2 separate regions of the Homo sapiens genome follow, and region 1 is linked to region 2. A link means that fine-mapping ties the variant in region 2 to the expression of a gene that starts in the linked region. Tissue or cell type: pituitary. Region 2 holds a variant in brackets; the other region holds the start of a gene. All regions are shown on one strand. Distances are between the middles of the regions.

Evidence for each region. PIP is the estimated chance that this variant, and not a neighbour inherited with it, causes the effect.
Region 1: SLFNL1-AS1 starts here. The variant in region 2 is the best candidate, but not a certain one, in a credible set for the expression of SLFNL1-AS1 in pituitary (GTEx, PIP 0.78).

The regions. Positions count from the first base shown.
Region 1 is chr1:41,012,691-41,017,081 of GRCh38, reverse strand. SLFNL1-AS1 (SLFNL1 antisense RNA 1) reads right to left here and starts at 2,492. Exons shown (of 4, transcript NR_037868.1): 1 at 1-2,492. It overlaps SLFNL1 (schlafen like 1), which reads left to right. Exons shown (of 6, transcript NM_144990.4): 6 at 854-1,485. The coding sequence ends at 976.
Region 2 is chr1:41,076,819-41,081,215 of GRCh38, reverse strand. All of the region lies in intron 8 of SCMH1 (Scm polycomb group protein homolog 1), which reads left to right. Among named protein-coding and RNA genes, the nearest start is that of SLFNL1, 57 kb to the right of the region's middle. The variant C/A (reference allele first, on the strand shown) is at 2,609.

The DNA.
Region 1 (4,391 bases), 64 kb after region 2:
TCCCATACTCCGCGGGTAGGTGGCTGGTGGGAAGGAAGAGGCCCAAGCTCTCTCCTTTTAAAAATCTATGCAGTGGCCAGGCGCAGTGGCTCACGCCTGTAATCCCAGCACTTTGGGAGGATGAGGCGAACAGATCACAAGGTCAGGAGTTCGAGACCAGCCTGGCCAACATGGTGAACCCTCGTCTCTACTAAAAATACAAAAATTAGCTGGGCATGGTGGCGGGCGCCTGTAGTTCCAAATACTCGAGAGGGTGAGGCAGGAGAATCGATCGAATCTGGGAAGCGGAGGTTGCAGTGAGCCGAGATCGCGCCACTGCACTCCAGCCTGGGCGACAGACCGAGACTCCATCTCAAAAAAAAAAAAATCCTATGCAGTATCCTCCCTTCAGGGGTGCCTGAAACCCCTCACCCTCTACTTGGGCAGTTAACACACTCGATCTTGAGTGAGGGAGCAGAGAGACTGGAATGTTGAGATGTCACCAGAAAACCCCAAAGACTATACACTGCATTTTAGGGGAGGCCCTAAAGCGGCAGAGGGGGCAAGACACAGTCCCAAGGAAGAGCTTTTTCAAGAGGGAAACAGAGAATGGAGGACAAGGGACCAACAGTGAGGAGGCACATGGCCTGCCCAGCACGGAGGAGGCTCCCTTCCATGGCTGGCAGCCGGCAGCTTCCCTCAGGCTGACACGGTTGAAGGTGGCAGCAGGCCGAGGGGCCTGACTTTTCCCCTAGCTGAGAAAGCTCTCAGGCTCCTGGGCTTTGCCTTCCTCCCTCAGTTTGGCCCCAGGTGGAGGACGGACAGGCCCGAGACCAGGCGGGCTTGGCCACATGCTTTTCCCATGTCCCCTCAGAGGTGGCTGGTGGAGCTGGGCAAGCTGGAAGAGAAGATGAAGGCGCTGATGATGGAGAAGGAGCAGCTCCAGCAGCAGCTGCAGCAGCACGGGCCTGTGTCCTGCACCTGCTGTGTCCTGTGAGGGCCCTGGGGAGCAGGCAGGACGGCACGGCACTCTCCACCTGAGACCCAGGGATTTCCTGTTTGAGTGTAAGGCCAACCAGTAAAGCCCATGCGGGCTGCTGAGAGGCGGACAGGGACTCCTTCAACATGGCACATGAGCAGGCACCCATGTGGCTTCAACCCTGACAGACCCATCTGTGTAGCCAAGAAACTGCTCTCAGCCCTGTCCCCAAATGACCTTACTTTCAGAAAGAATGTGTAAAACCCTGCCCAGAGCTCCCCTAGGGCTAAGCTATAAGGGATTGTCCTTCTCCCTAAAATGCTCATTTGGCCCAGGCTGAGGTCTGTGACTCCAGTTGGCTACACAGTGCCAGAAAGGAATCTGTCATCTCAGGAAAGCCCCTCAAAGATGGCGAGGCATATTTGATGACTGTGGTTACAGGGCAAGAGGCCACCCTGCAGCCCCCACCCCTGACTTGCTGGAACTTGTGACTGTCAAAGCTCCATTAATAAATTACATGCACCTGGGACAAGAATGGTTCTTTCTAGGACACTGGGTCAGCCGGTCAGATGCTGCAGGGTCATGAGTCCCAGGCCCAGCCCACCTCTGTCCAGGAGGCAGAGGACAGACCTGCAAGGGCAGGGAGCCCAGCCCCTCAGACTCCAGTCCAGCTCTGTCTTAAAGACCAGGGACCGTGGGGCAAAGTGCTATGCCTCTGTGCTTCAGTTTCTTCATCTATAAGACAGTGACAATGGCCAGGGGCATTTTGTCACCATCGGGCCAGTGCCCTGTGTCTACGCCAGCTGTGGCACAGAGCAGCACCTCACACTAAGGGTCTCAGTTCCTTTCCAAGACCCCTCTGGTCCAGTAAGACCGTTAGCTTAAAACAAACAAAAAAAACCAGACTCCTCCAGCTGCTTCCTGCCTCTGGCCGTTTCTCCTGCTGTCTCCACCAGCTGAGCCAGAGGCTGCAAAGCCAGAGTCTGATCACACTCACGCCACACCTGCACCCATAGCCCTCCAAATTCTTCAAGAGCAAAGCCCAAACTTGATGGCCTACATGGTTCTCCACCACCTAGCCCACCCAACCTCAATGTCTTCCGCCCCTTATGTAAGCCACTTCAGCCACGCCCACCAACTTGTTTCATTTGCACTCCTGCCTCGGGGCCTCTGCGCTACATAGCGGCCTATTTCCTTTCCTCTTCACCTTCAAGTCCATGCTTAATTTCCCACCCACCCTATTTTAAAGACACCACCTCCCAGCACTGCCACTCCCCTGCTCACTTCCACCCCTGGTCTCCATCTATGAACTACCACACTCTGTAGCTTATATTTGGTGCTTCCCCCACTGAATAACTGCTCTGGGGGACAGGGGTTTGGGTATGGCTGGCATATGGTAGACACCCAATAAATACCTGCTGGTGAGACAATTAAGGATACTCCTAAATTTGGGGTCTGAGCCACCAGAAAATCACCAAACCTTGTTGAACAGGGCATTTCACAGGACTAGTGTTCCACAGAACACACTTCAGTTGATCCCCTAAAACTTGAAGACCCTGGCCACATCCACAGCAGACACAGATGAGAACTTTGGAACCCCCAGCCCCTCCACTCACCAGCCAGGTGACATTTTCTGGGTGATCACAACTGCTCTGAGACCTGGTTTTCCCACTTAGCAAAGAGCACACAACCCCTGCCTCGGCTGCCATTCATGCTGGTTAGGGACCAATGTGATCACAGACACCTATATGGTGGCAGGTTACCAAACTCCTGCTGCTCACCCCCCGAGCTGCCCCAAGGTCACCAAGACTGTTTGAAAACTACACAAATGTGTTACTCAAGAAGGAGGAGTGGCATTTCTGAGCACCTTCCACGGTCCAGGTACCATGCTAAATGCTAGTCCAGGCACCACAATCCTCGGAAATGTTTTTCGGGGGAAAAGAGCAGATTTCTACAAAGGAAGGGTGAAGTCAGGCTTCAGCCCAGCTGCTCCAGACTGCTAAGAACTGCCCAGATCCCCTGGACTGAAGGGAAGTTCCCTGGACTGAAGGAAGTTACTGAAGGGAAGTTACACATAGCTGTGCCTATTGTTAGGTCACATTAAGAAAGGAACGAGGAATGTGACCAGCTTTCCTCCCCATGAGGGAGAAGCCTCCGGGGACGGGTCAGTAAACACTGGGCACAGGTTGCCCTCCTGTAAATCCAGCTTCAGCCCTATCCTGTCTGCCACAGCCAGCGTGGCGGGGCTGCTCGAGCTTTGCAAGCTCTGGAGAGCCATCTGGGATCTCTTTTTTCAGAAACCTTACATTATGTGGCCAGCACTTGACAAGTGATCAGCCAAAGTGATCTTAAACATAGGGGCAGGAACTTAATTACTGGGAGGCTTTTTCACACCACCCACACACCCAGCCATTGTGGGGGACCATGATGTCAACAACGGGCGTGTCAGACCCTCAGTTTGGGGAATGTTTGAAAAAAAACGGGCCAGACGTGGTGGCTCACGCCTGTAATCCCAGCACTTTGGGACGCTGAGATGAGCAGATCACGGCCAGCCTAGCCAACATAGTGAAACCCCATCTCTACTAAAAATACAAAACAATTAGATGGGCGTGGTGGCAGGCACCTGTAATCCCAGCTACTTGGGAAGGTGAGGCAAACAGAATCACTTGAACCTGCGAGGTGGAGGTGGCAGTGAGCCAAGATCACGCCACTGTACTCCAGCCCAGGCAACAGTGTGAGACTCCATCTCAAAAAAAAGACTATTGACCAGGTGCAATGGCTCATGCCTATAATCCCTGCACTATGGGAGGATCGCCTGAGGCCAGGCGTTCAAGACCAGCCTGGCCAACACAGCGAGACCCTGTCTATTAAAAAAAAAAAAAATTTAATTAGCTGGGCGTGGTGATGTGAACCTGTAGTCCCAGCTACTTGGAAGGCTGAGGTGGGAGGATCTTATGAGCCCAGGAGGTCTGCAGCAAGCCGTGCTTGTGCCACTGCACTCCAGCCTGGGCAACAGAGTGAGACCCTGACTCAAAAAAATAAATAAATAAATAAATAAAATTTAAAATGAAGACAATCTCCTGGTACCACCAGGTGGGAGAAGAGGTTAGAATTATGCTCAATCAGCCACGTTCAAAGTACCATAACAAGCAGTTCTGCTGGTGAAGACAGTCTGGCCCACTGCTCACTGGCTGTGTATATGGGGTACCCACGTCCAGTGCCTGGCAGAGGAAAGGACCACCTTCCTAAATCATGCTTATCCCTCCCCTTTCTCAGTCATAAATAGCACCATAATAGCACCCATGCACCTTTTCATCTCGCTCTACATGCTGAGAACCTGTATTTGAAGCTTTATGAAAAATTCTGGTTCCTATTAAAAAGAAAGCCTCATTTCTTAGTTTTTAAACAAACTCTCAGGTTGTCTGCTGAGTCA
Region 2 (4,397 bases):
CCCTATCAATATTTTATAGTTTTCAGTGTAGATGTCTTGCCCATCTTTCACTGAATACTTGATGTTATTTGATTTTGTGGATTTTTAAATAATTTTCAAATTGTTGCTATTTAGAGAAATACATTAGATTTTTAAATATTAGATTTGTATCTAGTGACCTTTCCAAATTCATTTTTTTATTTTAATAGATTTTGTAGACTTGTAAGGAGGAATATTTATGTAAACAATCATGTCACGTACAAGTAATGCTTCTTCCCTTACAGTCTGTATTTATAGATTTTATTTCTTTTCCTTTCCTTATTGCATTGACCTCCAATACAATGTCGAATAGAAGTGGTGATAGTAGTTATTTTGTTTTATCCCATAATTCAATAAGAAGTGTTCAATATTTCACCATTAAGAATGCTGTTGATTATAGGTTTTTTATAGATGCGTTTATCTAGACTAAGGAAATTCTCTTTTATTCCTAGTTTATTGATAATTTTTATCATGAATGGATGTTGAATTTTGTCAAATGCTTTTTCTTCATCTGTTGAGATGATATATAGGTTTTCTCTTTCATTTAGTGAATGTATGTGTTCAGCGGATTGTATTTTCCATTGTTAACCTTTGTATTTCTGAAATAAATCCCACTTAGTTATGATATATTATCCTGCATGTTATGATATGATATATATAGGATTGTATATCTGATATACATATAGAGAGAGACCTAGATTTAATTTACAAATACTTTGTTAAAGATTTTGGATGTATGTTCATGAGGGATATTAGTCTATAGTTTTTTTTTCTTGTAACTATCTTTGTCATGTTTTGGTATGAGGGTTATGCTGGCCTTATAAAATGAAATGGGAAGTGTTCCCTCTTCTATTTTTCAAAAGAGGCTTTGCAAGATTTGTTATTATTTCTTCTTTAAATATTTGCTAGAATTCATCAGTGAAGCCAGTTTAGGCCTGGGATTTTCTTTGTGGAAAGATTTTTAATTGCAATTGCAATTTTTTATTATGTATGAGGCTCTTCATATTCTGTTTTTTTCTTGTGTCAGTGGTATTTTTGCTTTGTTTTGTGTTTTAAGAGAGAGACTCATATATTATGTAAATAATGGAACAAACAAACAGATTTTTTAAAAATCATAATTAAAATGTTAAAATGTAAAAAAGATGAACAAAGTGTAAGAAAAAATAGTACCCACAGAAATATCTATATAAAAAATTAAATGGACATCTTATACCTAAAAAATACAGTATTAGGAATAACTCATTGCATGGGTTTAAGGGCAGACAAGAGCCAACAGAAAGGAGTAATAAACTTGATGAAAAAATAGAAAATATCCAAAATAAAGTACAGTGAGAAAATACAAAAAAAATTTAGAGCATTAGAGATAAGAGATAGAGCCTGTAATCCAGGCTGAAGTGCAGTGGTGTGATATAGCTCACTGCAACCTCGACCTGGGCTCAAGCGATCCTCTTGAGTAGCTAGGGCTACAGGCACACACCATGCTCAACTAATTTGTTTTTGTAGAGATGGGGTCTCACAGTGTTGCCCAGGCTGGTCTTGAGTGACATTTTATCTCAATTTTCATATTTAATTGGCATAAAGTTATTCATACTGTCCTGTTCTCTACCCAATGTCTGATGGATCTATGATGAAATTGTCTCTGCGTATTCTATATTTATTAGGTATATGTATCAGTTAGGTTGGTTGGTTAATTGGTTATTCATGTTATTAGTTTTCTTTTGGTTAGTGTTTATAGAGTACATTATTTTCATCTGTTTGCTTTTCTCTTCCTGTGTTTTTATATTTTGAGTGTCTTTGTATCTCAGGGCCCTCTTATAAACAAATATAATTGAGTTCTGGGGGTTTTTTTTGGTCTGGTTTGTTCATTTATTCCTACTGACTGTTTTACTTAATCCACCCTTCTTTAATAAAATTATTTATTTGGGTTTAAGTCAACATTTTGCATTTTGCTTTTTTGTTTTCTATTTGTCCAAGTTCTTCCTTATTTCTTTATTCCTCCTTTCTTGCCTTCTTTTGGATTAATCAAGTATGTTTTATTATTCTACTTCTCTCCCCTTAGCTTTTTAGTAATGCATTCTTATCCCTGATAATTCTTTAATTAATTGCCGTATGCAAATATGCATATTGGACTTATTAAAATCTACCTTAAATAAGTGCTCTAACTACTCCCAAATAATGCAAAATTCTTAACAAAGTTTGGCTCCATTTACTCTCCACTTTCATCCTCTGTGCTATTACTGTCACATAACTTATTAATACATATATTATAAACGGCACAAGCCATTTTTATTATTGTTTTAAATAATCAGTATCCTTTTGTATCAACTCACATGTTTACCCTTTCTCGTGTTCTTCATCCTTCCTGTAGTTTCATGTTTCCATTTGGAATGTCCTTCAGCCTGAAGAACTTCCTTTTCATTTTCCATAGTTAGGTCTGCTGGTGACAGATTCTCTCAACTTTGATTATTTGAAAATCTCATTATTTTACCTTTATTTCTGAAGGATATTTTCACTGGGTGTATAATTCTATCTTTGGTAGTCTGTTTCTTTTAGCCCTTTAAGGATACTATTCTACTTCTTCTTGCTTACA[C/A]AGTTTTATTAAAGAGCCTGCTATCACTCTTATTGTTGCTCCGGTAATGCTGTTTTTCTCTCTGACTGCTTTTTAAAATATATCTTTGTATTTCCTCCCTGTCTTTTATTTCATCTGTATTTCATCTTTTGTATTTTCAGCAGTTTGACAATTATGTGTTTTGGTATCGTTTTCTTTGTATTTTTCCTGCTATGGATTGCTGAATCCATAAGCATCCTGAATCTGTGGGTTGATGTCTTTCATTAGTTAGAGATTAAGTCTCCGCTGTTACCTTTTCATATATTGCTTTTTCTTCATTCTATCTGTCTTCTCCCTGTGGGATTGCAGCCACTCATATTTTGGACCTATTGACTGTGTCTACTTAATCTCTAATGCTCTAATATATTTTTTCATATTTTCTCACTGTACTTTATTTTGGATGTTTTCTATTTTTTCATCAAGTTTATTAATCCTTTCTATTGGCTCTTGTCTGTCCTTAAACCCATGCAATGAGTTATTCCTAATATTGTATTTTTTAGTTATAAGATGTCCATTTAGTTTTTTATATAGATATTTCTGTGGGTACTATCTACCTTTTCTTATATTTTGTTCATCTTTTTTACATTTTAACATTTTAATTATGATTTTTAAAAAATCTGTTTGTTTGTTCCATTATTTGGATAATATATGGGTCTCTTTCTATTGCCTGTATTTTCTCTTGATTACTGATCACACTGTTTTGACTCTGTTATGTCTAATAATTTTTGTAGTATGCCAAACGTTTTATATTAAAAGAACTATTGAGGCTCCAACTGGTATCTTCCATGAGAAAGAATTCTTCCTTTCCTCTGCTAGACTAAATAGGATAGGGCCTGATCACCTCAATCTAATTCTGGATTGAGTTAGACCACATCTGGATTGTGCCTATGGTTTATGCTTGTTTTTTGGACACGGACCCTCTTGGGCTCTTGGTTGGGAACCTAATTTCTAGCTCCTTAGCCCTGAAACACTGCAGGAGATTGTCCTACCCTTGAGAGGTCTGGGGCTTAGTTTTATTACCTCTCACCCCTTATAGTTTTAAAATATCTTTAAGAGGAGATCAGCCATGTATTTGGGGTATACTACCTACTTCTAGTGGAACCTTATCTCCTAAAACCACAAGATTATAGGAGATTTTATTCTGCCTTTTAAAAGCTCTCAGTCTAGCTTTGAAGTTCCAATGTGCTGGCCCAAAATTCAGCAGATACCCAATGAGAAAAACTGGCCACATGCAGGGGCTCCTTAAGTTTCCAGTTTGTCGCAGCAGCTCTCATTTCTCTTTCCTCCAGTAGAGCCCCTCACCACATGCCAAGCCTGATCCTTAGTTTATGCCAAAATTAGCAGATGCCCTCAGGAAAGAAAACAGTATCAGCTACCTCAGAGGCCACCCCTTGGAATTCCAGTTCATCTAATCCTCATGACAGCTCTGTGGTGTCTTCCTCATGACAGCTCTGTGGTGTCTTTTTAAATAATTACTCTGACTTTTTCTAGTTGTTGCATCGTTAACATTGTACTACCACAACTATCACTTCCTACCTGGAGGCCTAGGAAGTATTATCTTCTACCTGCCCTATATAATAGTTTATTAACTGGTCTCCCTAATTCTACTCTCGTCCCTCTCACAAAGCAGTCAGAGTGGTCCTTCTAAGTATATCTTGTCCCTCCCCTGCTCAAAACCCTCTAGTGGCTTCCCTTTATATTTAGAATAAGTTCAGTTCATTTTCACAGGCTGCAGTCCTACACAATTTTACTGCTACTCACTCTCTAACCT